Linked DNA regions of Homo sapiens. The protein of the gene in region 1 purifies or fractionates together with the protein of each later gene. This does not show direct contact. Each region holds a gene or a part of one and is shown on either strand. Other genes may lie near its edges. The genes, in order: PLS3 and KLHL23.

What was found.
Region 2: the proteins of PLS3 (region 1) and KLHL23 purify together in Homo sapiens (affinity purification with mass spectrometry; 2 studies listed by BioGRID and IntAct, with this or other methods). This does not show direct contact.

Annotation. Positions count from the first base shown.
Region 1 is NC_000023.11:115,552,456-115,567,715, reverse strand, and holds the start of PLS3 (plastin-3), read right to left. Parts: upstream 6,543-15,260; 5' UTR 6,456-6,542; intron 5,313-6,455; exon of another isoform or gene 5,186-5,312; intron 5,091-5,185; exon of another isoform or gene 4,985-5,090; intron 1-4,984. UniProt on the Homo sapiens protein: Actin-bundling protein.
Region 2 is NC_000002.12:169,726,323-169,742,018, forward strand, and holds the start of KLHL23 (kelch-like protein 23), read left to right. Parts: upstream 1-7,509; 5' UTR 7,510-7,765; intron 7,766-8,690; 5' UTR 8,691-8,692; coding exon 8,693-9,905; intron 9,906-15,062; coding exon 15,063-15,215; intron 15,216-15,696. Other genes in the region: PHOSPHO2-KLHL23 (kelch-like protein 23), read left to right, coding at 8,693-9,905, 15,063-15,215.

The DNA.
Region 1 (15,260 bases):
AAAAAAGAAGAAGAAAAGAAAAGAAAATCCAAGTTAATAGCTTTGAAGGTGTTTATTTTTCAACTTAACTTCCCACATTTTCTGTTTTTTTTTGTTTGTTTGTTTGTTTTTCTGTTTTTCTTTTGAGATGGGGTCTCACTCGGTAGCCCAGGCTTGGAGTGCAATGGCGCAATCTCGGCTCACTGTAACCTCCGCCTCCCAGGCTCAAGCAATCCTCCCACCTCAGCCTCTTGGGTAGCTGGGACTACAAGCCCGTGCCACCGTGCTTGGCTAAGTTTTTGTATTTTAGTAGAGACGGGGTTTCACCATGTTGGCTAGGCTGGTCTCCTGGCCTGAAGTGATCCACCCACCTCGGCCTCCCAAAGTGTTGGGATGACAGATGTGAGCCACCGTGCCAGGCCATTTTTTGTGTTATTCATGGCATGCTACTTAAATGTATAGATTATCTCTTCCACTATGCAGTTTCCCAGACCTGCGTGTTGTCCTCCTTTAGACTGCAATTATGAGGAGGAAAAACTTGATTTTTTATGAGGTTTTTTACACGAAACCTCCCATTATGGGCAATCACAAAACTAAAAATGAGGTATGGTAAGCCAATGGACTCTGTAACAATTACCACTGAAGACCAAAATTCTACTCAGTAGTTAGTTAAAAAGGGGAAAAACACCACCCAATTAATGGCTTTAACGGGCTACCTTGCACAATATTTGAGGTAAGAAATAGAAGAAAGTATCACATGGGCTGGGCGCGGTGGCTCATGCCTGTAATCCCAGCACTCTGGGAGGCCAAGGCGGGCGGATCACAAGGTCAGGAATTCTAGACCAGCCTGACCAACATGGTGAAACCCCATTTCTACTAAAAATACAAAAATTAGCCAGGCGTGGTGGTACGCGCCTGTAATCCCAGCTACTCAGGAGGCTGAGGCACGAGAATCACTTGAACCCGGAGGCAGAGGTTGCAGTGGGCTGAGATCACGCCATTGCATTCCAGCCTGGGCGACAGAGCGAGACTCCATCTCAAAACAAAACAAAACAAAACGGGCCGGGCGCGGTGGCTCACGCCTGTAATCCCAGCACTTTGGGAGGCCGAGGCGGGCGGATCACGAGGTCAGGAGATCGAGACCACGGTGAAACCCCGTCTCTACTAAAAATACAAAAAAACTAGCTGGGCACAGTGGCGGGCGCCTGTAGTCCCAGCTACTCGGGAGGCTGAGGCAGGAGAATGGCCTGAACCCGGGAGGAGGAGCTTGCAGTGAGCCGAGATCACGGCCGCTGCACCACTCCAGCCTGGGCGACAAAGCAAGACTCCGTCTTTAAAACAAAACAAAACAGAACAAAACAAAAGAAGAAGAAGAAAGTATCACATGTAGGTTTTTATTCTATTGTTATCAACCTAGTCTCTTATTTTTCATTATAATATGTCTGGCTTTATTTTTCCTTTGCTTGTAAAAATTGGATGGGTGCAGAACTTTTACAGACAAAGAAAAATGTGGCAAGACTTACGTGATGAGAACCCTGCCATTTCTGTAAACTCTTGTTAAAGCTTTAGTGTTTCTATGATACACTGCTGCAGTACTTTGAATTTATATAGCACCTGTCTGCTTAAAAGCCAAGGCTTCACGTTTCTCACTTATCCTTTTACCATGCCTGTGAAATATGTAGATTGGAATCACATGGCTTAAAAATAAAGTGAAACCCAGATATGACCACAGAAAATTTCAATGAGTTACTTAAGATCATCTATCTGTCCAGACTGCAAAGGACTAAAAGACCCTAAATTCTATGCTCAATGCTTTTCCAATAAACAACACTACCTCCTTATTATCAAATACGTTTCTAAACTTTTAAGAAAATGTAAGGTTTCTCATATTATAAAATCAGTAGGCTTAATGCACCAAAAATCCCTGTCAAGGAATTAAATAAATGGCACCTCTTTATTTTAAAGAACTAACATTAGTCATGGAATAACCCACTGGTGATCACTTTCCTGAATAGTCATCAATTTGCCAACAAAGTATTTAGCTTGGATCAATGCAATTGCATCAAAGTTTGAAAAGTCAACTGATAAGTGAAATAAGCCAGATTATGAATATTTGAAAAAATAAAACCCAGCAAACCAAAAAGCTTGAGCAATCCTCTCTTTTTATAAACAAAAGCATGAATGGTGTCTGGCACATGTATGTACTCAATTAGTTATTAATATAATAATTTTAAATGACTTTCCGAAGGTCAAATTATGAGTCAATGGCAGAGCACTATCTAGAATCTAATTCCTCTGAGGGCAAGTTCAATGATTTACTTAAGATAATCTATCTGTCCAGACTGCAAAGGACTAAAAGACCCATGCTAAAATAATTAGTATTTTCATTTTTGTATACTAACAATACTTCTTCATCCCTAAAACAGTTTATACTCACTAATATTTATCTTCCAAGTGTCAAGACTAAGGCAAAATTTGGTATTATTAAATTTATCGTGAATCTTCTGAAATTGTCTCACCTCCGTAACTAAAATAAATTGGCCCAAGTATGATCAGATCTTCTAAGACTGACATTTCACGATTAGACTGTTTCCATAACTTTAACCAAAGCGCTCTCATAACTAAAATCAGCTAGTCATGACCACTGGTATATAAAAATCTTCCAACATTGTAATGTATCCAAAAAGCTTTGAAACCTCCAACACACTGAATATACATTATATGGTATATCACTGTCTAAAATAATACAGACTCAAAACATGACCCAGCTGACTTCTTCTAAATGAGTTGTATTATTTTCACAGATCAAAAATTTTGCCTTCTGGATCACTCTTCACCAAAAGAAAAATTGCCATATGACCAAAGACAACATGATTCTAAAAACAGATACCCCATTGTTGTCATGTATTGAGAGATATTCATTTTCAAATTTTATTTTATACCAGCTACTTTCATAATCTGTACCAAACATCAAAAAAGAAACAGTTCAGCTTATACATTCCACATAGATTATGCTAGATCAAACACAACAGCAAACTCATGAATTTATCATATGTGCTAAGAACACTGTCAGTACATTTCATGAAAATCCAAGTAGAAATAATGCCTAAAACAGAATATGGGATAATGGCAAATGGACTTTCTTCTTGTACCCTCTCAGTGTCACCAAAAAGAACCACTTTGGTGCTCAAGCACCATGGCCAAGCTGCCCTTTTATTTTCAGTAACAGAATTCTGTTCTCCTGGGAGAAAAATCTCATTGGGTTTCTGATAGTGCCCTAGATACTGACATTCTGCCAGTATAAACAGTCACAGTCAAAGTCTAATGTGCGTGTAACCACTTGTGGAAGAGGCTTAATCTCACCCAAATTATTACTCACTAGTTATAATTAATCCTTCTACCCAAAATGCCATAAGCCTAGTCATTTTTATCAATTGAATCTAAATGGTTACATCAGACTAGAGACTTTGGACTTCAATGTTGATCGTCTGTATTAAGTCAAGGCAAAGTGTTATTTATTTATTAATAGCTCCCCACCTCAGGTAAAGGGGTTGCTATCTGCTAGATCTAACAGTAAAAATCAAGAATTTGACTCCCAGCCCCCTAATTTCAATAAAAATTTGGGCTCATTAGATCATACCACCAAAAAAAGTCAGCAATATTGGGGGTGGTGTTCAATGAGTAGGCATCCCAAGACAATGAAAAGCTGTGGACTAGAGCCTAGCGATGATTCTGTTTAGACATGATTTCACAATACTTAAAAAAGAACTTATCCCCCTACCACTGTAACCTAGTTGAGTGGTAATAACTTCCTTTTTTTGAGGTTAAACATTTATTATTTCGATCTAAAATTATATTATCACCTCACTTCCACTAGAGGGGTCTATCTACCAGTGTAGTTAACTCTAGTAACTCAGGTGCACCTTAAATCCATTTCCAGCTCATCTGTGCCACAAGGCTAGCCTTGGGGTCAGAACAATGTGCTTTAAGGTTGTTCTAGTTTTCAGGCTCAGAAACGGATGAACAGCAAGAAACTGGAGTGCTCCGGTCATTCAGAGGCTGCTGCAGGAGACAAAGGGTTTTTGGCAAAAGAATACAAAGTCAGAATCTCTTAAATATCTTCTGCCCTAGTTGTTTTCAAGACTGAATATGCATCAACCAGGTCCGTTTTTTCTTTTTTTTTCAGATAAGCAAAGCTTTTAAACTCCTGACCTCAGAGGCTCCTCTGCCTCTCTTCTATACTCTGTAATATATAATCTGAATAGCCAAATTGCCACGTTTTCCCAGAAGCAACCTTAACTTGGGCCACTTGGGCGGGTATAGGTCAATATGGGAAAGTTGTTTCAGTGTCCTCTCATTATTCTACCAAACCACTGACAGGCAAAAACCCAACCAACTCGATGTATCAAATTTACTATCCACTGTTTTTGTGCATGATTTCTAATCCAGTTAATTGAAAACCACAAATAACTGGTGGTTAATTTTAGTCAAGAGGTTATTTACTACCTTTAAGTAGTTGCCTAAAATAGGGAACAGTTCAATTAGAATATAGGCCAGACCAAGGAAGATGAACAGAGCCTTACTTTTTAACACTATCTTGTGGGATTTAGCTTCAAATCTAGTATTCAGGGACAAAATGAGGCATGAGTAATAGGATGACTTCCCTAGAAAATAATTAGTAAGATGTTTTTTAAATTTAGAAAAACCATGAGATTGAAGAAGAGAGGAGATACATGTCCCAGCTCACATATATTTCAATCCCTTATTTTAAAAACAGCTCCTGTTTTTGTTTTGGATAAAAGCTGAGCACCAAATTCCCTTTCTGGTCCCCTCATCCAAAATCCTAGTAGACTTCCTTGATTAGAAGCTAGTTCACACTCCTCCCCACCTTTTTTTTTTTCAAACGTAGAGGTGGTTTTTGGAATATGGGCCTCAACCATTACATTCCAGCTTTAAAGTAAAAAGACGTCATGTGACCATCAGAGACTTGGGGCACGTGATTCCAACTGGTATGTGTGGGGCTCCAGCCACTTAGTTGGAATTCACCATGAACTGCATCTCGAGGATCAAGTTTAGGCTCCCCAGTCCATTGTGACATCCAGCAAAGTGGAGTAAGTGCTTGCCCCTCAATGGTTTTTACTTTTCCCTACATTTTCTACCTACTGTTAGCCAGGCTCCCTTCCCTCCTCCCAATCCCTCTTAACAGGCCGGGCGCCCCCAGCATCCCGTCTGTCTGACGCTAAATGGCGAGGCTCTCCAACCCACTTAGCTCCAAGCTCAACCTTCTGCAAAAGTTCAACCTTCTGCACCACTGGGGATATCGTGCAGCTCAGGTGAGAGGCAAGGAGCATCGCATAAGGCTAGAGTCAGATGCCATTAACCCCCACTCCACCTCCCGGGCTGGGATCATCTTACGTCCCGGAGCCCGGCGGTCGGAACCGCCAGCACACTGGAGCAGCGACGGCGGCAGCAACTTTGGGACTGGCGAGAAGCCAGGGCGGGGGTGGTCGGCGTCCCCGGGCCTCTCATTACAGCGCTTAAGTACTGCGGGTGGAGAAAAGTAAACACAGGCAAGTGCAGCTGTGCGGGGAAAGGGCGGGGGGGTAGACTATTACCTCCCTCCCGTCGCCCCTTTGCCTCTCCCTCTCCAAGAGTCGGGAGAGGTCCGGGACTGCCGCCGCCCCGACCGCGCGCCCGGGGCCGCAAAGTCAAAGGAGCTGAAAAAAGGACAGGGGGTGTGGGGCCAGGGGAGAACGGAAAGGTACTGTCCTACTAGCCCAGAGATGTTCTCCTACTGAAAGGAAAAAAAGTGCTTACTCATAGGGAGACTAGGTGCGTTCGCGACGCCCTCGCTAAGGACAAGGGAGGGAAGCAGGCAGAAGGCAGGCAACCCAAACCTCGTGCCTTCCCTCGGCCACGGCCCCCCCTCTCCAGAGCCCCAGGGTCGGCTTAAGCCAGCCAGGTCACCCGAGGCGGGCGTGTGGGGGCTGGAGGAGTAGCAGGCTGCTGGCTCCGGGATTTCCTGAGTCCGGGCGGGAGGGAAGAGGGGATGGCAGTAGCTGGAGAAGGACGACAGAGGGAAGTTGTGCGCTCCCTTTCCACTTCGGGGCCGCAGCCGCGGAGGGGAATCAGGGCAAGGGCTGGCGTCTAGGACTCCAGCCCAAGACTGGCAACAAGTTAAGAGCAACTAGTAAGAAAACACCACTTAATACAGTGAAGTGCAGAAAACGTGTCTGCGGCGGATGCTAGTAGGGAAACTCCCCGTCACTCACACCCATTTCGGTTGCGACCGATCGCCCGGGCGCCCGAGGGCTCCAACTGAAATTTCTCCGACCTCCCTCTCCCCCAACCCCCGCCCCACGGTGCGCCGCACGTTCCTGCTGAGCTTAACCGAGATGCTCTCCCCGGGACCCACTCCTGCCCACGCCCAGGAAACCCGCTCCCCTAGTGCCCGCCGGCGCCTACAAAGCACTTACGTAAAGTCGCAGAGTCCTGGGTCTGGCCCGACTGCCGCCGACCAACCCACTCAGACAACTTCTGCACCTCGGAATCTTTGCAGCTGTGGCTCTAAAGCCAGCGCTCCCTCCCCTCCTGCCAGCCCCCTCCGCCCCTCGGCCGCCGCCATTGGCTCGGGTGGTGCTAGCAGTCGGCCTGGGAACCAGGAAGGGGATTGGGCCACGAGCCTGTCACATCAACTGGGTGGGGATCCAGGAAAATAGGCACGGGGATGGGCACCCAGGAGGGATAGGGACTGCAACTCTGCTGCAGGGAGAGGAGAATGGTCCCCAGCGCCTGAGTCTCCCCTTCCTACTTGGGCTAAGAGGAAGTTAGAAGTCCAACGTGCCTGGCTCGGAGTACACATTCACACAATCTTGTGGGATTAATAAAAAGATGAAAAAGTTGGGAACAAGAATTTGAATGCCACCTATATAAGTCTATGGGGGAGGGGTACAGTTTCTCCCAGAATCGTGAGAAGAATAACGGCATGTTGGGGAACATTCCTAATTACATCTGCAACAATCAGTCCAGGTGCCAAAGGGTGCAGAGGGAAACATCAGCAATCATTCCTTTCCTTAAGAAGTCAAGGGAGAAGAATATGGGCAGGGCAGGGCCCTCAAGCCTTTGGCCTCATGCCAAGTAAATTGTTAGCCCACATCACCTGTCTGGTATGTTTGTCCATGCGGAGAGGGGTTGAGAGGAGGTGGTTGGAAGTACATTGGTTCCACTCTTTTGACCGGAAATGGGTATCAATTCTCATCAGTCTCCTTTCACCAGAGAAAATTTGGAGACATGTTACTACTCCCCAGACTGCCATTTCTTCTCCTTCTCTGCCCAGGAGATGGCTTCCACGTCATAGCTGACCTCTTTCATTAATACACGTGGAGGTTATCTGCATTCCAAACCTATGGTTCATCGTATATCCAAAATCAACTCAGAGAGCCAGAGTTTGAGGGATTTTGCAGGGTCAGGTCAAGAGACTGACTTGTGGGATAGCTGTAGAAGAAAAAGTCTAAGCCCTTTCCTGTTCCAGTCGTAACCATTTTGTTGAGGAAATGTGTGCTTGGAAAGTTCTGTCAACATTTAAAATTAGTTCAATTAAGTCGCATTTTACATGTACCAGGAAAAAATGCTGAGAGGCTTTAAAATGGAATGTTCTTGAAAAGGAACCCCTATTTCATCTGCCATTATGAATTTCCTTAGAGAAATTAATCCGTAGTGAGTGCCAAGGCTTCTTAAAAGGGAAGAACTTGGGGAGTTCATATATTGCCTAAAGGCTAGACTAGCAGAGGACTTGGCACGAGGAAAAAGCCTTGTTAAATATTAATTAATGATTAACCAACTGGAAGAACTTATGAAAGGCACAGGAAGGTGAAAAAGAAATGGGAGGGCAATCATGCTTTCACAAACATTGAATTTCTGTTATGGGAGATTTTCTACTGGTTCAGGTTTGGGCCAGCACAAAAATACTGATTTCAACATGTTGGCGTTGGATTGAACATGGAGCCAGTGCATTGCCACACACATTTACAGTAAGCTCCCAAATGAGATTTCTAGCATTCAGTAATTGGCCAAAGGTTTGGTGTGACTTCTGGAATTCTTTACAAAAAATTTTTAGATACAGGAAATAGGCTTTTTCAGTTTTCTACCTTTTATGGTGTCTGTCGGTCACCGCTGAAGAGCTTCCACCTGCTCTTAAACTTAAAATTACAGACTGAGCAATAGCATGAAGGGACTCTGTAAGCTAAATTTTCCAGTGCAGATATATTTGTCTCAATTACGTTGTATTCAATTTTAGTTTATTTTTCAAATTCTAGAATTTAAAGTAAAAATATTAAGAATCCTACGTATATGCTATTTACAGTTCCTGTTTTTAATTCAAAAAAGCTTACATTGGTCCGAGTAGGGTAGCTCACGCCTGTAATCCAGCACTTTGGGAGGCTGTGCAGTGGGAGGATTGCATGAGGCCAGGAGTTCAAGACCAGCCTGGACAACATAGCAAGACCTCATCTCTACAAAAAAAATTAATAAAATTTTTTAAAAGCTTAATAGAATCTATACTTTGATAAAAGTCTTCATTCACCACTATCACTGAGGATGTCAGAATTCAGTCAAGAAATGTCATTTTAATTGAAATGCAATAGTCCATAGTTTCAAAGCTGCAGTGTACCTAGCTGATGGCATTAGTTCTCATTGCCTCAGTAACTTTCCAACAGATAAAACACACCCTAAACACAGAAGCACCTATTTGGATGCTAGCTGAGATTCCTGTTTAACAAGCTCCACTATATAATCCAGGTAGAACTCCATTTTAATGAATACTATTAAGATACCCAGCCAGTTTGATGTAACTAAGCTACCTTTGTGTTGCCCAGAATCTAAAGGATCTTTTCAAATTTAGCATTTTGCTGGAAGAAAGGATCCTCAGGCTCAAAGCTCTTAAACAGCATTTCTTTATAATTTTTCATGCCATCAATTTACCTCATAGAGGATCATTCACGAAGTAACCCAAAGTTGATTGTTTTCTTATCTGTATCAAAAAGCCTGCACAGATGTTTGTCAGGGTTCCCTCCACCTGCTTATAGGCTTTAATTTATTTTGACAGTGACTTGCATAGTGCCTGACACATAGGAGTTCAGTAAATGTTTGCTGAACCAATGGTTATTTTATGTCTATTCTTGTTAAACAACAGCAACAAAAAGCTATTAATATATATAGGATTCTCACAGACCTTGTGAATCAGTAACCTAAGAGTTTTTACCTTTCCTTCCATTTCCAATTTTCGATCCTAATGCCTTTGTAATAAATCACTTAAAGTCAATATCACAAAATTTTGAAAACCATTTATTCTTCCTGTCCTCCGCTGATATCATAAGAAGGCGCCAATATCTCTCTTAGGTTTTTTGTCTGTCCAAACTACTTTTCTTTCCTCCTTTTGATACGCACATCCCCCTTTTTCTTGCTCTTTTTCCTATTGTTCTGCCCAACACTCTCCCCAGTCTAGCTCACAATGTATTATGTGTACATAGTCTAAAATTTTCCCTGAAATTTTCCTAGAGTAAGTTGTCAGTTTCCTCTTCTATCCATTTTTAATTCTTTATTCTTAACATGTCATTGCTGGTTTGAACTTTTTTTTTTTTCCTTGAGACAGAGTTTCACTGTTGTCACCTCAGCTGTAGTGCAACGGCACAGTCTCAGCTCATTGCAACCTCTGCCTCCCGGGTTCAAGCGATTCTCCTGCCTCAGCCTCCCAAGTAGCTGGTATTATAGGCACCTGCCACCACACCCGGCCGATTTTTGTTTTTTCAGTAGAGATGGGGTTTCACCATGTTGGCCAGGCTCCTCTCGAACTCCTGACCTCAGGTGATCCACCTGCCTTGGCCTCCCAAAGTGCTGGGATTACAGAGGTGAGCCACCGTGCCTGACCACTGGCTTGAACTTTTTATCCATTTTTTATTTTATTTTATTTTATTTTATTTTATTTTTTCTTCTTTTTCCTCACCCCGTCTGAGATAATTTTTATCATTTTTTTTAAAACCTCCTTTCTGTAGTCTATTAAAAAATGATTTTGCTGCATAAACTTTATATAAGCCAGGAATAACTTAAAGAATCTTGATCAGTTCAATACTAAATCATTTTTCTAACACACCTAATTGTTTTCTCAGTCTCTAAATGTAAAATTGTGTACTAATCTGTTTTAATTAATTGTATTTTATTTTATCAGATTATTTTCAAGGAATTATCCTTTTTTAAATCATCTTTTTAATTCATGGATAATTCTATTCCATGTTGTGATATTTTAGGTTCTTGGATTGATCCTAATCCCTCTTTTTATTCAGTGTGCTGTGAGATGACATTTTTATTAAAATTAAGTATGATTTTAAAGGTTTCTCTCATACTTAAAATATTTGGCATAGAGGAAATCTTGGAAGACCTGGACAATTATTAATTTTTTTTTGATCCATAGGATACAGATTTGAACAGTTATTACCACTGTTTATTAGTGGAGTGTTTTTATGTTTCCAACTCAAAATGTACACATGTATAGGACATGAATATTAATAGTGAATAGGCAATTGTCAAATATTTTTCAAACCTAAAGATTATTATGAATGTGAATGCCTGCTAATGCAGGCCAACTATCTTACACGCACATTCACATAAAGAAATTACTCTGACATGTCCAAGCTTATTTCAGATTTTCACTTGTTAAAAAAAAAATTATCAGTATCTGAGAATAAGAAAATTAAAAAATAAAAAACAAAAAATTAATTGAAGTCTCTTTAATAGGATTAGGACATATTTAATCAGTATGGACTTTATAATATGTAGATTTAACAAAGATCACTATCATCACTGGAAATGCTCAAAATTAAAGTGTCACCCTCCCCTCTCCCGACTTTCTGGGTGTTAAATATCTAATTAATCAATCAGATAACTATTATAAGCAACATAGAAAAAGTATGGTCTCAAAACACAACGAATTAATAGTCTAATATTAATTCAAGATCAAAGTCCACATAACTGTAATAATGAGAAAACAATTCAAGATAGAATATATAAGAAGCACCGTAGGTAGGCTGAAAAGAATGAGAATAATAGGGCTAAAGCAGTTGTAGAAGGCATCCTTTGTGCAATGGAACTTGAGCTAGGCTTGACAAAGATGGGTAAGACTTGATATAGGCAAGTAGAAATGAAAACCATTTTCATTCCTAGGAAGTGATAAAAGAAAAACTTCAGACAAATTAAATTTAACATAGTTTAATTGAGCAATGAACGATGGGGCAGCCACCCCAAACCAGACTAGGTGCAGAGAGACTCTGGTGCTGCCACATGTTCATAGAGAATTTATGGACAGAAAAAGAAAAGTGACATACAGAAAATGGAAGTGGGGTACAGCAATAGCTGGATTGGTTACACCTTGGCATTTGCTTTATTTGAACTCAATTTGAACAATTGGCTGCTTTTATTGGCCAAAACTCAGTAATTTTTACAAGTGAGGGTTACAGTGTGTTTACACATCTGTTTAGGTTACAGTTCACTATGTATGGAAATACTGTTTTTTTTTTTTGGCAGGGTCTCGCTCTGTCACCCAGGTTGGAGTGCAGTGGCACGATCATGGCTCACTGAAGCCTCAATTTCCCAGGCTCAGGTGATTCTCACACCGCAAGTCTCCCAAGCAGCTGGGACTACAGGCTCGTGCCACCACACCCAACTAATTTTTTTTTGTGGTAGAGACGCGGTTTTGCCATGTTGTCCAGGCTGGACTTGAACGCCTGGGCTCAAGTGATCCACCTGCCTGGGCCTCCCAAACTACTGGGATTAGAGGCCTGAGCCACCACACCCAACCAGGCTAAACTTAATTTAACATAAGAAAGCAAAATGGGAGCGCTTTAGGTAAGTTTCTGAGTTTGGGCTTTCTTTCCAGGCTTCTACTTCCTTATCTGCAAAAGAAAAACTGAGGATTTGCCTACCACAAAGGTGCAGTGATAACATCAATGGGAAGGAAGATTGCTTGGGATCTCACTAACGTAATCTTTTTAAAAGAGAAAATATATTTTTTTAACACTTACTTTAGTGATTAAAAAGACTTGTGGGCTGGGCTCATGCCTGTAATCCCAGCACTTTCGGAAGCCGAGGTGGGTAGATCACTTGAGCCCAGGAATTTGAGACCAGCCTGGGCAACATCGCAAAACCCAGTCTCTACAAAAAATACAAAAATTAGCTGGACATGGTCGTGGTACATGCCTGTAGTTCCAGCTACTTGGGAGGCTGAAGTTGGAGGATCACTTGAGGCTGGGAGGTTGAGGCTGCAGTGAGCTATGATATCACCACTGAACTCCAGCCCGGAAAGCAGAGTAAGACCCTGTTGAAAGAAGGAAAGAAAAGAAGGAAGGAAGGAAAGGAGGAAGGAAGGAAGAAAGAAAGGGAGGGAGGGAGGGAGGGAGGGAGGGAGGGAAAGAGGGAAGCAAAAGGAAGAAAGGAAAGAAAGAAAAGAAAAGAGAGAGGGGAACATCACACACCGGGGCCTGTCCTGGGGTTGGGGGAGGAGGGAGGGATAGCATTAGGAGATATACCTAACGTAAATGTAGAGTTAATGGGAGCAGCACACCAACATGGCACATGTATAGATATGTAACAAACCTGCACGTTGTGTGCATGTACACTAGAACTTAAAGCATAATAATAAAAAAAAAAGAGAGAGAAAGAGAGAGAGAGAAAGAGAAGGAGAGAGGGAGGGAGAGAGGGAAGGAGGGAAGGAAAATAAAAGAAAAGACTTGTGAATCTTTCTTGTCTTACATTAATTAAACTGCCAAGTTACAGAAGGTCTTGCTTTTAGTTACAGTAATTTTGTTTGTCTGGTTTTTTTTTTTAATTTTTTAATTTAATTTTTTTTAAGACGGAGTCTCGCTCTGTTACCCAGACTGGAGTGCAATGATGCAGTCTTGGCTCACTGCAACCTTCCGACTCCTGGGTGCAAGCGACTCTCGGGCCTCCTGAGTAGATGGGATTACAGGTGCGCCACCACACCCGGCTAATTTTTGTATTTTAGTAGAGACTGGGTTTCACCATGTTGGCCAGGCTGGTCTCAAACTCCTGATATCAAGTGATCCACCCATCTCCCAAAGTGCTGGGATTACAGGCATGAGCCACCGTGCCTGGCCAGGTTACAGTAATTTTGACAGTTGCTTTAGTTAGAGCCATAATAATCCTTCCCTCAATGAGATTTACATAATTAATTGGCACATATCACATTTTGCTTTTAAGGAAGTATTATTAATAACATGCCTGTAACTTACACAGAATTTAAGGTAGGTGAGTGCACTAGCACGTACAACTTGATGTTATCATTTTGTGTGTCTGGGCTATAAAGCATTCTTTTTGGTGAAATATTCAACCTCAACCTTTATTAGAATGTAATTTGAAATATTGGAGGCTTCCTATGAAAAAAGTCTTTTAAACATATACAAACAACCCTGCAGAATAAATTGTAGCGCACATTTTAAAATTTATAAGGGTTATCCATAATTCTCCACAGCACTAGCCAGACTTCTAAAGAAACAGTCATGTCCAGTCTATTGCGTTTAACTGATTTCTGAATATGTGAGGCCAAATTTTGGTAAATTTATGAGTGTCTACCTGCATTATGTGTGTGTGTGTGTGTGTGTGAGAGAGAGAGACAGAGAGAAAGAGAGAGAATATGATCAGATATTTAAATGCTATAACTGATTATTCTACCAAGAATGCTTATAGTTAAATATTTGGGTCTGTGTTTACTAAGTATGCAAAATAATGACTTTAAAAAGAGATTGACAGTGTGACACCGTGGATGAACCTTGAAAACATTATGCTAAGTGAAAAGAGGCCAGTAACAAAAGACCACATATTGTATGATTCCATTTATATAAAATGTACAAAAAGGGAAAAATCCATAGAGACAGAAAGTAGATTAGTGGTTGCCTAGGACTGGGGGTATGGGCAATTGGGGGGAAATGAGGAGTGACTGCTAGTAGGGTTCCTTTTTGGGGTAACGAAAATATTCTAAAATAGATTGTAGTGGCGGTTGCGTAACTATATGAATAAATTTAAAACTATCGAATTGTACAATTTTAATTGGTGATCTATATGGTATGCGAATTAGATCTGTTACTTTAGGCAAGTTAAAATTAACAGAATTTAACTGAGCAAGAAAAACAAAAACGATTCGAGAATTAGCCAGCTCCCAGAATCAGAACAGATTCAGAGATTCTGGGGCTGCCCCATGGTCAGAGGAGATTTATGGACAGAATCAGGAAAATGACATACAGAAAACAGAAGCGAGTGCAGAAACAGCTGGGCCTTTGCCTTATTTGAGCAGGGTTTGAACAGCTGGCTGCCTGTGAGTGGTTGTTTAAGTATGGCGGCTGTGATTGGCTGAGACTCAGCTATTGTTATAGAAGCCTACTCCTAAATTAGGTTTTCAGTTTGTTTACCTACTAAGTTAGGTTGCAGTTTATACTTAAGAATTCGAGTGTACAAGTACAAAGACTTTCTCAGGCCAAATTTTAGTTTGATTTAACATATCTCTATATAGCTGCTATTCAAAAAGAGAAGGAGATTGACAGAATTAGGCTATTAAGCACAAGGAAAACCATACTAATGAGGATATGATATGAAAGGATCTGTAATTGCAAGGAAGAAACTAAACTCATGCAATCAAAAGGGCCTTGGGAGATAAATTCATCCACTTCTTGGTTAGCATGTTCCCATTTTTGTCACTGTCACTGAAAGAATAACATAGTGCTTTAACTTACTACAAAAGAGATGTAAATTAAACATTACAAAAAAAAAAAATTTCAAACAAATCAAATCAGCCAGAAACGGAACCTAGGCAGTAAAAGGTGATCTAGTGCTTCTCTGATACTTTTAAAAAGGTTTGAATCACCATATGACTAAATTGGTGCCACAGTTTTTTAAATCATGCCACAGTTTTCATAAATACTTGCGGTTATAAAGATAATTGGACATTTGGTTTAAGTAACCAAGAAATTCCTTAGGAAGTGTCACAGAAGGTTTCAGGATAAGAAGTTTCATTCTGAATCAACACACATCTCTTTGGTAATTCAGAACCAATAATGTTTTCACTGGTTTGTTTCTTTATCAATGCCATAGATTCACCTGAACAAGGGTGAAAATAGAATGTAAAGTTGTTCATTCAGGGAGGCATTCCCTTTCATACACTGAGCAACATTATCATAGCTTAAATCCCATTTGGTGGTTGGAATAGGGTAGGCCTAAAACTA
Region 2 (15,696 bases), on another chromosome or scaffold:
ATAGATGAATGGATAAAGAAAACATGGTACATATACACAATGAAGTACTATTCAGCTGTAAAAAAGAACGAGATCCTGTCATTCGCAGCAACATGGATAGAACTGGAATGTCATTATATTAAGTGAAATAAGCCAGGCACAGAAAGACAAACATCACATGTTCTCACTTATTTGTGGGAGCTAAAAATTAAAACAATTGAGATAGAAAGTAGAAGGAAGTTTACCAGGGGCTGGGAAGGGTAGTGGGGGACTGTGGGGATGTTTAATTGGTACAAAAACTAGTTTAAAAGAATAAATAGGACCTAGTATTTGCTAGCACAACAGGGTGACTATAGCCAATAATAATTATACATTTTCAAATAACTAAAAGAGTATAATTGGATTGTTTGTAACACAAAGGATAGATGCTTGAGGTGATGGATACCCCATTTACCATGATGTGATTATTACACATTGCATGTCTGCATCAAAGTATCTCACGTACCCTATAAATATATACACGTACTATGAACCCACAAAAATTTTAAAAAGGCAGGGTGCAGTGGCTCATGCCTGTAATCCCAGCACTCTCGGAGGCCGAAGTGGGAGGATCACTGGAGGTCACATGTTCGAGACCAGCCTGACCAACATGGCAAAACCCTATCTCTACTAAAATACAACAATTAGCTGGGTGTGGTGGCATGTACCTGTAATCCCAGCTACTCGGGAGGCCTAGGCAGGAGAATCACTTGAACCTGGGAGGCAGAGGTTGCAGTGAGCTGATATCACACCATTGTACTCCAGCCTGGGTGACAGAGCAAGACTCTGTCTCAAAAAAAAAAAAAAGAAAATTAAAAAAAAAAATCCTAATGGAGGTGAGAGAGCCAGTCCTGTAGTGGTAGCTGGGAAAAGAGCAGTCCAGGCGAAAGGAATAGCTAGTAGCAAAGCCCGGAGAAAGCCCTGAGGCACCGCCTCCTGGTGAGAGGCAAAGCAGAGCTGGATGTGGGGATCCAGGAGCCTGTTATAAGTACTCTGGCTTTTACTGAATGAGCCAGGAAGTCTTTGGCGAGCTTTAATCTCTGACTTATAGAATAATATCAGTCTTTCTTGGGTTAGTTGAGCCAATGCTCTTACTTGTATTCTTTCTCCATCGCTTATAATGGAAAAAGCCCTAGTTTATTATCCTTCTGTCTTGTATTAATTTTATCTGGGATTGAGCTCTGTGGCACAGAAACATATTCTCAAATAAACTGCTATCTTTTAAATAGTAATAATACTCCCTCAAACAGTAATAGGCTAATTCCTGTTTTGGGACCAGATCAGTGGTCTTTCAAATCTAATAAGTTTGAAAAACTATGTACTCACTTCCATATTTTTAAATCGATATTGGAAACTTTTCATCACAAGTTTAAATATTTGCCAAGGTTGTAATTTCTAACATGTTATAAATAATGACTGTTAAATAATACTTTTAAATCTATTTAGTAAAAACTAAATATAGCCGTTCAAAACCACTGTCATTCATTTAAAAATACATAAACAAGTTGTTCTTTAAAAGTGGGAAATTTTTGGCTTCCTAGTACTTACCATGGTCTGTGTTCTTACGCTGACTGTATAGAAACAGGAGGCAGAGTAAACCGACCCCACATATACCTCAGCCCAGGCCCTGTGCTGCGTCTGTATTGTGAATCAGGAGACATGGAGTTCAGAAAAAAAAACTATTGGAAGTTTTTATTTTCTCATTTTTAAAATTTAGTTCTCAGTCTTCTTTCTTCTTGAGTTCGTACTTCCATTCTACTTCTCTTAGAGAAGGTTGTCCCACTGAAAATACAGGCAGTCCTCACTTTGCACAATAATACAGGACCTTCAAAATAACTGTACAAGTTGAAAATGTATAATGTGATCTAAATAATCAATGGGAAAAATTATGATTGTCCTATGACCTTTACATTTTTTTGTCACAACATTATGAACTCTCTTACTATTCGTTAAAATGTATAGGGAAATAAAGAACATGGTAAGACTGATATTTACTTAGTATACTGCAATTTAAAACATTAGAAACATTGATAAAGTGTTATGTTTCTTTGTAAACACTTAACAATAGTAGTTCGCTTAGTTTCTTGCCTTCTTGTCATAAAACTTATGATTTGGCGTACTCATCTTTCTACGCCTTGATGGACTGTCATAGTTTTACGTTTGGATCAACTTCCAATGTGTTATCCTTTGCATTTTCGATGTGGTGAAATATCTCCAAGAGTTCCTTTAATGTGAAGTTTTTTGCCAGGATCACTTCCTTTGAGACATAAGGTGACTCACTTATGTCATGAGTTCACCTGCACTAAGTTCCCTGGCTGCATATCTGAATTCTCTCCAATGGTGGTAGTGTAAACATTCCCATGGTCAGCTATTTCCTCTATAACCTCATTGTGTTCATTTCACTTTTTTTTTGTTGATTTTTTTAGACGGAGTTTTGCTCTTGTCACCCAGGCCGAAGTGCAATGGCACAATCTTGGCTCACTGCAACCTCCGCCTCCCAGGTTCAAGTGATTCTCCTGCCTCAGTCTCTGAGTAGCTGGGATTACAGGCACCCACCACTACGCCTGGCTAGTTTTTGTATTTTTAGTAGACACAGGGTTTCACCATGTTGGCCAGGCTGGTCTCGAACTCCTGACCTCAGGTGATCCGCCTACCTTGGCCTCCCAAAGTGCTGGAATTACAGGCGTAAGCCACCATGCCCAGCCATTTCACATTTTATTTGCGGTATTGTCACTTTTTATTTCCATGCCATACTTTCATCCTTGTTGGTCAATACCCTTTCTCAATCACCCATTTTTGTAAAATGTCACATGGGTTTTTTACTAGCAGACAAGGAGACAATGCAACTGCAAGCCTTACTGTCTGTATGTGAACTGACAGATGCACAGAGATCAATCACTGACAGACTTTGAAAGAAGATACATGATTGGTCACTGATCAGGATGCGCATTTGTTAATGTAGTAATTCATGGACCTGAGGAGCTAGCAGCAAATTTGTATTTTATGCAGTTACTCAGAGTTAATTTACTTCAGTAACTGAAATTTGAAACCTTGTTCTCAGGGGACAGGTGTTATTTAACTAAACCATGGTAACTAAAATTCATACATATTGGAACCATTCAAAGAAAGCATTTTTGGCCAGGCCAAAAAAAAGAAAGACTTTTCTGTATGGTTTTATACTGAATATCTTTTATTAATCTCTTAACCTTCTCTGTGACAAAAATGTGTATAAATTACAATTTGTATGTCCTTGATGGTTTTATATCTTTGGTTATTTTACAAATCCTGGTCTAATTAATATTATAATTATTATTATAATTAATTAAACATAAATATGTTTAAATCAAAAGTAAAAAATTATTAAAAATTATTTCAATCTGATGAATAGGGCTACTTTCATTTAGAGTATGAAGTCAAGTAGTGCTTACTGCTGGAATGAGACAGTATTTAGGTTCAATAATGTTCCTGCTTAACATTTCTATAGACATAATCGCTGAGAAAACATGTTCACAGAGACAAATAGGTAAGAATGAGATAAATTTTATCATAGTGGCCGGGCGCGATGGCTCATGCCTGTAATCCCAGCACTTCGGGAGGCTGAGACAGGTGGATCACCTGAGGTCAGGAGTTCAAGACCAGCCTAGCCAACATGGCAAAACCCCATCTCTACTAAAAATACAAAAATGAACTGGGCGTGGTAGCATGCACCTATAGTCCAGCTAATCAGGAGGCTGAGGGAGGAGAATCTCTTGAACCTGGGAGGCAGCAGTTGCAGTGAGCCAAGATTACACCATTGCACTCCAGCCTGGGTGACAGAGTAAGACTCCGTCTCAAAAAAAAAAAAACAAACAAAAAACCTTTTTTATAGTAATGCCATTCATTTTGTCATTCCCTCCAAATTATTTGCCAAAAATCCTCTTTCACTTTTGCTGGAAACCAGGAATTGGAAACCTGTGACTTGCAAAAGCATTTTTACCTAGTTATTAGAATGTTCACTTTCTTATTTTACAGGAAACATACCAAAAAAGGTTTTACCAAGACACATCGGCTGCAGGGCAGCCACAGATACCTGCGTTGGTTGTGTACTATACAACTCCTGAGAGCAGTGTTTACACTGTACTCTACTTAAGTTGCATGAGCTGGAATTGTGCAGTGCACAATTTGCAAAGCTGTATGTGGTAGCCTTATACATTTTACCTACTATTGTTTTTTATTTTGAGACGGAGTCTCACTCTGTCGCCCAGGCTGGAGTGCTATGGCGCAATCTTGGCTCACTGTAACCTCCGCCTCCCAGGTTCAAGAGATTCTCCTGCCTCAGCCTCCTGAGTGGCTGGGATTATAGGCGTATACCACCACACCTGGCTAATTTTTGTATTTTTAGTAGAGATGGGGTTTCACCATGTTGGTCAGGATGGTCTTAAACTCCTGACCTCATGATCTGCCTGCCTCGGTCTCCCAAAGTGCTGGGATTACAGGCGTGAGCCAATGGGCCTGGCCTTTTTTTTTTTTTTTTAACTTGGCAGCAACTTGTTTAATCCAGTATGTAAATGAAGTATACAAAATGTTCTATCTATGCCCATCATCTACACACATTGTTAATGATATCACAGCATATCAAACATTTAATGGCATGGCTGTACTTAGTGGAAAGATGTACTAATAAGGTAAAAATTATAAATAAAATCATTATTTTTAGAACTCGGAGTCCTTTGAAAGCTGAAGTGTGATGTCAATAAGTCATCTAACTCCATGCCAAGCTTAGTATCTGCCAAATCATTTATGTCTCATTTCCATGGCAGCACTTTATTTCTTTAAGACTTGGAACCACAGATGGCACATCTGTTTTCTTGAACGGTATCATTAATTTATTTGATTTATGAATGCTAATTATATGTTTCTGAATGCATCAAATCTATCAGCATTTGCAATGGTCTCTTTGATAAGCACATGGTAAAGAGGAACTATGCCAGGCAATACCCTTCAGGACCTGCTCTTCTCTTAGCAAAGTGAAGCAGTATAATAGTCTAATATGTAATATACACTGATATACACTTTTAAGTAGTAATTCACAACCAGGGAACATCACGAAATGAAAGCAAGAGTTTTAGTTGGTTCATGCAGCCATCTGAAATAACTGCATAAATGAGAATATAGTGAATTCTATTATTCATGAATCATTTATTATTACATGTAGTTATGATTCCAGAAGCCCTTACTCCAAGTTAGATGGAGCCTATATTTTTTTATACATCAAACTTGGCAAACAGTAATTATAGCTGCAAAAACAGCCATCTCTACACTTCAGTGACAAAAATGGAGAGAAGTCTCCTTCAATCAGTCACAATTGTGTCCTTGAATGGCAACAGTGACAACAGCATCACTATCAGTTATGAAGGGCAAGCTATAATTACTATTAACTATGAAGTTCATAATTTCTGAAGAAATGTTAAGAAGATGCTAATTTCCAAATTAAGGTTGTGATGCAGAATTAAGTGTAAATATTCTTTCATTATAGTAGCTAACATTTATATATCAAGTCCTAAGTGCTTCATTATTAATTTGTCTTTCCAATAACCTTAGGTTAGGTTGAGAAAGTATCCATGTTGTCTGTGTTTTACAGATCTGAAGACGAAGGATCAGAGAAGTTTAGTAATTTGTGAGAGGCTATATGTTGGATAAGTGGCAGAGATGAGCCTTAAGCCCGAAACTAAATCTCATATGCTTTCCTTTTCTAACTATACTGTTTACCAGATGTTGGGATGTTAAACTTTCATCCTTCTTCCTTTTGGGTCCAACACATTCTCTTATTTGTCCATAAGAATCACCTGCTGCCCTTGATTAGAATGCAGATCCCTAGGTCTCCACCCCGCAGACGTCTGTGCGTGGGGTGTGGTAGTTGTGGGGGCTGCATAACCAGCATCTTACATAATTCAATTAAGATGATCTGACTTGTGGAATTAAACTAAAACCCACCCACAGGAGAACCAACAGATGCTATTTATTCAGAGTTTGCTGTAGAAGGGAGTCCCACTCACCATCACTTTGTCAGAGGCTCAAAGGTGGGGCAGACGAGTGGGAAAGCTTTATAGAAGTGAAGAAAAGCCCCCGGTATGCTCTGATTGGAAGTTGTTGGCATGGGAAAGCTGCAGGTGGGCTACTAGAAGCGGGGGTATTTTATGTGATGGGTTTGCGGAACATATTTGGCTTTCTCTGGTTGGTGCAGAGGTGGAACTAGGGGTAAAAATAGGGAAGTTGCACTTTGGAAGTCCCAGGCAGGAAGATCGCTTGAGTCCAGGAGTTTGAGACCAGCCTGGGCAACATAGTGAGACCCTGTCATGAAAAAATATTTAAAATTTTTCAAAAATTGCACATCTGTAGTCGTAGGTACTTGGGAGGTTGAGGCAGAGGATCTCTTGAGACCAGGAGATCGAGGCTGCAGTGAGCTAAGATCGTGCGACTACATTCCAGGCTGGGCAACATAGCAAGACCCTGTCTCAAAAAAGAAAAAAAATAGGGAAATTGCCAGTCGTTGACTACTTCCTGACTGTTCTGGTTCAGCTGCTACCAAGGTTGTGGTCTGGCTTCCTGGGCTTCTTATGTGGTTCAGAGTTCTGTTGTCACATACTATCTGGCCATTCATGTATATTGCGTTTCTGAGACCATACTCTGGGAAACACATGGTCCTCTGGTGGTGGTGAAGGTCCCTGTGAGCTAGGGACCATCTGTCAACACTCTTATCACTACTAGTGTCTATCCCTATCAGGCACTAGAAGCACTTAATAAAATCTTGCGAATGAATGAATGAATGATATACAAAAATATTTGATACTGGCTTTAGTTGGAACAAGAAAATGAACTTTGTGTACCACATAGACATCTGTGACTAGAGTGGCCGTCACCAGAAAGGCTGCTCCTTCCAGCTGCTATGCTCTAAATACAATAACCTGAATCTTAGCACGACTGGACTTCGCCTGGACTTCGCCTTGGCCCCGGCTGCCCAAAGTTTCTCTCAAAGCTTCAGCTTAACCCCTGATGTGCTCACCAGCACCAAGGCGCCCTCCTGAGTGCTTTGCTGGGGGTGGGATGGCGTTTGTGGGAAAGGCCGGCTACTTCTGGCATTTCAACGGCGCCTCCAATCCCTGACCTTTAGTTGTGCCCCATTCTCTCCACTCTTTCCCCCTTCTCTGTCCTCACGATTGAGTCTGGGCTGGCGAAGCCTACTGAGGGAGGGGAGTGTACACACATGCACACGCGCGCGCGCGCACACACACACACACACACACACACTCATATATGGTGTTATTAATAATTCAGGACTCAGAGTTTATCTAAGAGAAGACGCTCGACCGGGTGTGAGAGAGCGCGCGGGACAGAGAGCGAGCCAAGGAAGGGGAAGGCGGCGGCGCGCGCTGTCTCCTGGGGAAGCAGTCCCACCTGCTGTGGGGGGCGCCGCTGGGGAGGGGCCGAGCCGTGCTCACGCCTGCACGCCCCGCCCCGCTCGCCGCACGGCCCGGCGACGGGGGAGTTCCCGCGAGTGGCCTCGCGCCCAGACCGTGCGGGGGGCTGTTCGGGTGGAGGCGGGGGAGCCGCCGGGACACCAAAATAGGAGCTGCTTGTGGGGTGGAGCGGCACTAGCTGGCGGCTTCCGAGCGCCTCTTCCAAAGATGGTCAGAGGGGCCGGAGGCGTCCCCGCTCCCGCTCGCTACTAGCCCGCGGGCCAGCGCCGCGTCCCGAGCCCCGGCGGGAGGTAGGTGCGGTGTGGACCCGCAGCCCGAGGCCGGCCTGCTGGGAGCGAGCGGGGCCGGGCGCGGGGAGCGGGGCCGGGCGCGGGCAGCGGGGCCGGGCGCGGGCAGCGAGGCCGCGCGGGAGAGGAGCGCAGACAATGGCCGCGCGGGCGCCGGGCCGGGCCGAACGCGTTGCGCTGGGGCTGCCTGCGGCGTCCTTCCCACACCTGCGCGGAGCGCCGGGCAGAGGGACGCGGGCACCGGGCCCGCGGGCGGCACGCGGCGCCCTCGAGTCCAGCCCCGCTCCTGGCCCCGGGGCGGGGCGGTCTCCGGGCGGGAACGTGGGCCGGGGCCCAGGCGCGGGGCGCGCGGAAACCCCTGCGGCGGGCGCGGGGGAGGGGGCGAGGGCTGCAAGGGCTGCGCCGAGCTGCCTTCCTTTCTCTCCTTCCTTAAGCGAAAGGGCTCGGGATTTCCCTTTTCCGAGACCTCTTCTTGTCCATTTATATTTCCATCATCCCTTTCTTGGCATTTCGATGTGATTTGAAAGGGAGACGAGCTTGGGGAAAAGGTTGAATTGGGGCCGAGCCGAGACAGCTGAGGTCCGGCCTCGAGTGGGGTGACCCTCGGACACTTGCCTTGCCTAGTGTGGGATCTCATCTCCGAACGCCAGGCCAGGGTAGATTGCGGTGAATGGAATAGCAAATCAGTACTCTCAAAAGGACTACTGAAAAATCCAGGAGCCTCATTTCAAGCTCCGAGCTACCCTGAATTTAAATTGACCACCATATAAATGATCAAACAGTCCATCCACATTTTGCATTTATTATTTAGATGCTGAACTTAGTCCAGTTTTGGAGTATATCCGATGATAGTCAAGTTATTTAGCGTTGATTATTTGAGAGAATGTGCAACATTGAAAACACATTTGTTATTTCATATTTATTGCAGCCATGGCTCTAAAAGGACAAGAAGATTATATTTATCTTTTCAAGGATTCAACACATCCAGTGGATTTTCTGGATGCATTCAGAACATTTTACTTGGATGGATTATTTACTGATATTACTCTTCAGTGTCCTTCAGGCATAATTTTCCATTGTCACCGAGCCGTTTTAGCTGCTTGCAGCAATTATTTTAAGGCAATGTTCACAGCTGACATGAAAGAAAAATTTAAAAATAAAATAAAACTCTCTGGCATCCACCATGATATTCTGGAAGGCCTTGTAAATTATGCATACACTTCCCAAATTGAAATAACTAAAAGAAATGTTCAAAGCCTGCTTGAGGCAGCGGATCTGCTACAGTTCCTTTCAGTAAAGAAGGCTTGTGAGCGGTTTTTGGTAAGGCACTTGGATATTGATAATTGTATTGGAATGCACTCCTTTGCAGAATTTCATGTGTGTCCAGAACTAGAGAAGGAATCTCGAAGAATTCTATGTTCAAAGTTTAAGGAAGTGTGGCAACAAGAAGAATTTCTGGAAATCAGCCTTGAAAAGTTTCTCTTTATCTTGTCCAGAAAGAATCTCAGTGTTTGGAAAGAAGAAGCTATCATAGAGCCAGTTATTAAGTGGACTGCTCATGATGTAGAAAATCGAATTGAATGCCTCTATAATCTACTGAGCTATATCAACATTGATATAGATCCAGTGTACTTAAAAACAGCCTTAGGCCTTCAAAGAAGCTGCCTGCTCACCGAAAATAAGATCCGCTCCCTAATATACAATGCCTTGAATCCCATGCATAAAGAGATTTCCCAGAGGTCCACAGCCACAATGTATATAATTGGAGGCTATTACTGGCATCCTTTATCAGAGGTTCACATATGGGATCCTTTGACAAATGTTTGGATTCAGGGAGCAGAAATACCAGATTATACCAGGGAGAGCTATGGTGTTACATGTTTAGGACCCAACATTTATGTAACTGGGGGCTACAGGACGGATAACATAGAAGCTCTTGACACAGTGTGGATCTATAACAGTGAAAGTGATGAATGGACAGAAGGTTTGCCAATGCTCAATGCCAGGTATTACCACTGTGCAGTCACCTTGGGTGGCTGTGTCTATGCTTTAGGTGGTTACAGAAAAGGGGCTCCAGCAGAAGAGGCTGAGTTCTATGATCCTTTAAAAGAGAAATGGATTCCTATTGCAAACATGATTAAAGGTAAGTGGAGATTATGTTTATTTTGTATTTTTTAGATGTCTGGAGCTAGGCCAGCAGTCTCACTTCTCTTGAATTTATCACTTTGGGATGCTATCTAGGAACTATAGTTAATTATACAAATAATGCTACACAGAATGTTCCAGATAAAAACAGTATAGCATAGTTCCCAACTTGTCTGAGAGTTATGAGAATTTATATTCAAGTCAAGGGCTAGATGAAGAGACAAATCTGGACAGTTTTTCATTTTTTCATGTTCTTAAAATTGAACCCTTTAAAATTCTGCTATTCAACTTTTTCCTCTCAAAATACGCTGATCAGCTCTCAAGAGGTCCTTCATTAAAACCTTGGAAGGTTTGGTCCCTACAGGATGTAACAAAGTACATTCTTCCAGGAACTAGAGACAACGTCTGCTTTTGCAATTCAGTCCTCTCTGAGAGGGGCAGACACCATACTCTCCCTCATGTGGCCCACAGAACCCGGCACACCCCTGGGTCTCGGTATCTGTCTGATAAACACTATTTTCTGCTGTGTTTGGCGATTTGTTTGCCTTGCTCTCCTTCTCTCCCACTGGAAAAAAAGTTAAACGGGAATCTTATTTCATTGTATTTATTCATTGGTGCTGAGGAGTTGTACAAAAACAACTGGTAGGTCGTTACCAAATTTGTATCATTTTGTCCCAAATGTTTCTTCCCAGGCTTTTCTGTTTCTTTTTTAATGCTAGTGAGAGTGTGGGAATTTGACCTGGTCTGGAAATCTGACCTGGTATGATCCTTGGATGACAGGCAGGAAGCTGAGAGGCAGAACAGTCTTGGGATCAGGCACGCTGCCTCTGAAGCTAAACTGCCTGCATCCAGATCCCTGCTTTCCTCTTACTTGCTGATGAGCTCTGGCAAATTGTTTAATCACCCTGTGCCCCCGTTTTGTCATCTGTATAATGGGGATGACAATATTACCTAGTCTCGGATCATTGAGAGGATTAAATTAATCTATGCTTGTGAAGTGCCTAGAACAGTGTCTGACACAGAGTAAGCATGCTATAAATGTTACGCATGATTGTCCTGAATGTCGGTATTGAAGGACATGTCAGCTCTTATAGAGCAGAAATTGATTTCATGTGAAGTTGTGACCACTGTCACACCAGGGTGGGAGAAGGTAGCAGAAAGCCCGGTGCTGTTGCTCCCCTGGTTTTTGTCTTTGCCTGAGTCTCACCACTACTTGCCGATTCCAGGAGGGCTCTGAATGTCCTGACCCCTCTTCTGCAAAAGAAATAAGAAAAGTCCATATATTTAAGGAGCTATTGTAAACTAGCATACATTTCTGATTCTGTTTTTTAAGGATGATATAACAGTTTCAATGGTTTTGTGGTTCAGAGTATATTTCTTTTTCTTTTTCTTTTTTTTTTTTTGAGATGGAGTCTCACTCTGTCTCCCAGGCTGGAATGCAGTGGCGTGATCTTGGCTCACTGCAACCTCTGCCTCCCGGGTTCAAGCAGTTCTCCTGCCTCAGCCTCCTGAGTAGCTGGGATTACAGGCATGTGCCACCACACCTAGGTAATTTTTGTATTTTTAGTAGAGACGGGGTTTCACCATGTTGGCCAGGCTGGTCTTGAACTCCTGACCTCAAGTGATCCCCCCACCTTGGCCTCCCAAAGTGCTGGGATTACAAGGGTGGGTTCAGAGTATATTTCTTTGAGAATGAAAGCTTATTACTTTACTGAAATTTTAAAAATTTATATTTAGAACAGTGCTTGTTGAAAAAAGATATGCTGCGATGGTGTATCTACTGTGAAACAAAAGCCATATGCATGCTTGCGTTAACCTTGAGTGGAGTAGGAGACCCTCATACCTCAAAGTCCTCCCTCACCTGCTAACTGGGTCTGAAATTCCAGTTTTATACTTTGAACTCAAAGCTTTGATTCTTGTTTATATCTAGTCATCCCAGGGAGAGGTAACACTGCCAGTTATGTGCAGTTTTGACTACTGCTTGTTTTGGTGGGTGGACTCATACAGAACTTTTTTTAAACAATTTTTAAAATTTTATTTTTAATTTTTAAAACTAGAAATGGCGGGGGGTCTCACTATGTTGCCCAGGCTGGTCTTGAACCCCTGGCCTCAAATGATTCTCCTACCTTGGCCTCCCAAAGTGCGGGGATTATAGGTGTGAACCACCACACCCAGCCATACTGAACTTTTAGATTCCCATTTTTTGGTAGAAAGGATAACATTTTTTTCAATTCGTTTTATTTTGTAGCCTTGAAGTGAAATAGCAGCTTTCTCTGGTAATAAACTTAATTTGGGTACAGTCAAATTTAAAATTTATTACCTTTTTTTGGTCCTGGACCCAAATTAAGTTCACTAATGTACAGAGAATAAATAAATACTTGGCTGTTTAGGAACTCCTGAATCTTTATTTTTTTCCATCATAACTGCTCTACTTATAAATCCACTTTTATTTTGGAATAGAAAGGAACAAGAAGATTGAACTGTATCATGCAAAATGGTGCTAGGTAAAAGTTAGTGGAAAGACAAAACCAACGTTTTCAACTAAAATGATCCTCATCATCTTTCTTCCTTTCTTCATCTTCCCTCCAAACCTATTTCCTCCCCCTCCTCCCCCTCCCCTTCCTCACCCTCCCCTCTCTTCCCCCTTCCCCTCCCTCTCCTCCCTATCTCCCTTTCATGTTTCGCCTATCTTCCTCTTTCTTCCTCCTCCTTCCCTCTCCTCCCCCTCCTCCCTCTCCTCCCCCTTCCCCTCCCCCTCCCCCTCCTCCCCTTCCCCTCCCCCATCTCCTCTCCCTCCTTCTGCCTTCTTCTTCCTCCTCCTCCTTCCCCTCCCTCTCCTTCCCCTCCTCGACTTCCCCCACCCCTCCTTGTTTTGGCATCAGTGATTCCAGTTTTTCCAGCTCAGGACCTCAAAATCGGTTTGGTTTGCCTCTGCGTCAGTCAGTCATCAAGACCTGTGTGTTTTACCTGTCTCTTTCCTCTATGCTCTTCCCTCCATACCCAAAGCCCCTTCAAAATCAGGCCCTCGAGACCGCCCACCCTGGCCAGTAACTAGATCTTTCTGGTACCTGTTCTTCCTTTGTTAGTTGCTCTATTCCTCTGTTTAAAAACCTTTAAAATCTGGCTGAATTAAATCCAGATTCTTTGTTGGGCATCAGTAAGTATCCTTTGCTACATGGCTTCAACTTACCATGCCAGCCTTAAAGTCCCATGCAACAACCCTCAATGTGCCACCTGCCCTGGTCAAACTGGGCTACTTAACATTGTCCAGTAAGCCTTTGCACTGGCTTTTCCCTCTGTCTAGAATGGCCTCCTCTCATCTATACTTGCCAACTTCCTACCATCACCCAGGTCAAATTCCACCACCACCTGCTGTGATTTCCCTCGTCAAATGCAGTGTTTTCTTGCCCTGACCATGCCCAGCAGTTCATCTGTCCCTTTTTTCATGGTGTTTCTTCCATTTTATATCTAGTGTTCTAATTACAGCCATGTGCCACTTAACAATGGGGATATGTTCTGAGAAATGTGTGATTAGGCAATTTTGTCATGTGAACGTTATACTTAAACAACAGGCTATACCATACTAATTCTACAGCCTAATACACACCTAGGCTGTGTGGTATAGCCTGTTACTCCTAGGCTTCAGACCTGTACAGCATGTTACTATACTGAATATTCTAAGCAGTATAACACAATGGTAAGTCTTTGTGTATCTAAACATAGAAACAGTACAGTAAAAATACAGCATAAAAGATAAAAATGGTAGACCTATTTGGGGCACTTACCATGAATGGAGCTTGCAGGACTGGAAGTTGTTCTGGTTGAGTCGGTGAGTAAGTGGGGAGGGATTGTGAAGGCCTAGGACATTACTGTACACTACTGTAGACTTTTTACTTTTTTTGAGACAGGGTCTTGCTCTGACACGTACGCTGGACTGCGGTGATGTAAACATAGCTCACTGCAGCCTTGACCTCCTGAGATCAAGCAATCCTCCCACCTCAGCCTCCCGAGTAGCTGGGACTACAGGCACATGCTATCACACGTGGCTACTTTTTTATTTTTTGTAGAGATGTGGTCTCACTTTGTAGTCCAAGCTGGTCTCAAACTCCTCCTGGGCTCAAGTGATCCCCTGCCTCAGCCTCCTAAACTTCTGGAATTACAGGCATTACTGTAGACTTTATATAGCTTATAAAAATACTTTCTTTTTATCCTTATTCTATAAGCTTTTTTTTTTTTTGAGACGGAGTCTCGCTCTGTCACCCAGGCTGGAGTGCAGTGGCACTGTCTTGGCTCACTGCAAGCTCAGTCTCCTGGGTTCACGCCATTCTCCTGCCTCAGCCTCCCGAGTAGCTAGGACTACAGGCGCCCACCACCACGTCCTGCTAATTTTTTGTATTTTTAGTAGAGACGGGGTTTCACCGTGTTAGCCAGGATGGTCTCAATCTCCTGACCTCGTGATCCACCCACCTTGACCTCCCAAAGTGCTGGGATTACAGGCGTGAGCCACTGCGCCCGGCCTCTATAAGCTTTTTTATATTATATATATATATATATATATATATAACTTATTTATTGATTTTTTTACTCGTTAAACTTTTTTGTTAAAAAAGTAAGACACAGACATACACATTAGCTGAGGCCTATACAGGGTCAGGATCATCAATGTCAGAGTCATCAATATCACTGTCTTCCACCTCCACATCTTGTCCCACTTGCAGGCTTTCAAGGGCAATAACAGGCATAGAGCTATCCTCTCCTATGATAATAATGCCTTCTTCTGGAATACCTCTTGAAGGACCTGCCAGAGGCGTAGATTTATTTACAACAGCATCACCAGAAACACATGAGAATGCTTTATGCCATGTCTTTAAAACAGCTACCACAGTATCACTAGGTGATAGGACATTTTCCACTCCATTATAATTTTATGGAGATCATTGTGCGTGGTGCATGGCTGTGTTTGTGTGCACGTCTCACCCTCTCTTAAGAGCACAAAGAGCCTTCCTTTTTTATTCTTTTGTCCCTTATAGCACTTAGCACAGTACCTTGCATTTTACCATCAGTAATAACAAAAACAACAATAAATTTAGCCCAGGGTTCACTGCAAAAAAGAACAAAAGATCAATCTAAAGATGTGATTTTAATTAATACGTAGGTGTGGGAAATGCTACTGCCTGTGTCTTACATGATGTTATCTACGTCATTGGTGGCCACTGTGGCTACAGAGGAAGCTGCACCTATGACAAAGTTCAGAGCTACAATTCCGATATCAACGAATGGAGCCTCATCACCTCCAGTCCACATCCAGGTAACAAAAATACTGTCTCAAATAGTGTATGTTGTGATGTAGTTTAGTAGCATAAAGGATGGCTAAAAATGGACTGGAAATAGAAAATGCTGATTTTATTGTAGACTACACATGGGTAGAATTAAAAGTCTCAAAATATTCATATATGTCCATCTAACAATAATCACAATGAGATTCTGATTGGGTCACATCTACAAATATTTTCCCTGATGTCTTTATACAATGCACATTGTAAGTCTGTGTGGTCAAAAATATTAGCGTCTTTAAAATTTTTTTCCTTTATATGCCATCTTTCATTTATGACATTAATTATATAAAATACAATGTTCATAAGTAGTTGAAAAGCACCATTCTATCAAATAGTCAGAAAGGGTACCCAGTGATTGAAGTTCAGCTAGAAATTGTTTCCTGTTTTAGAAGCATGTTCTTTCTAGGTTTCACTTACTATTAAGCACTCACTCCTACAATGTGCAGAGCCATA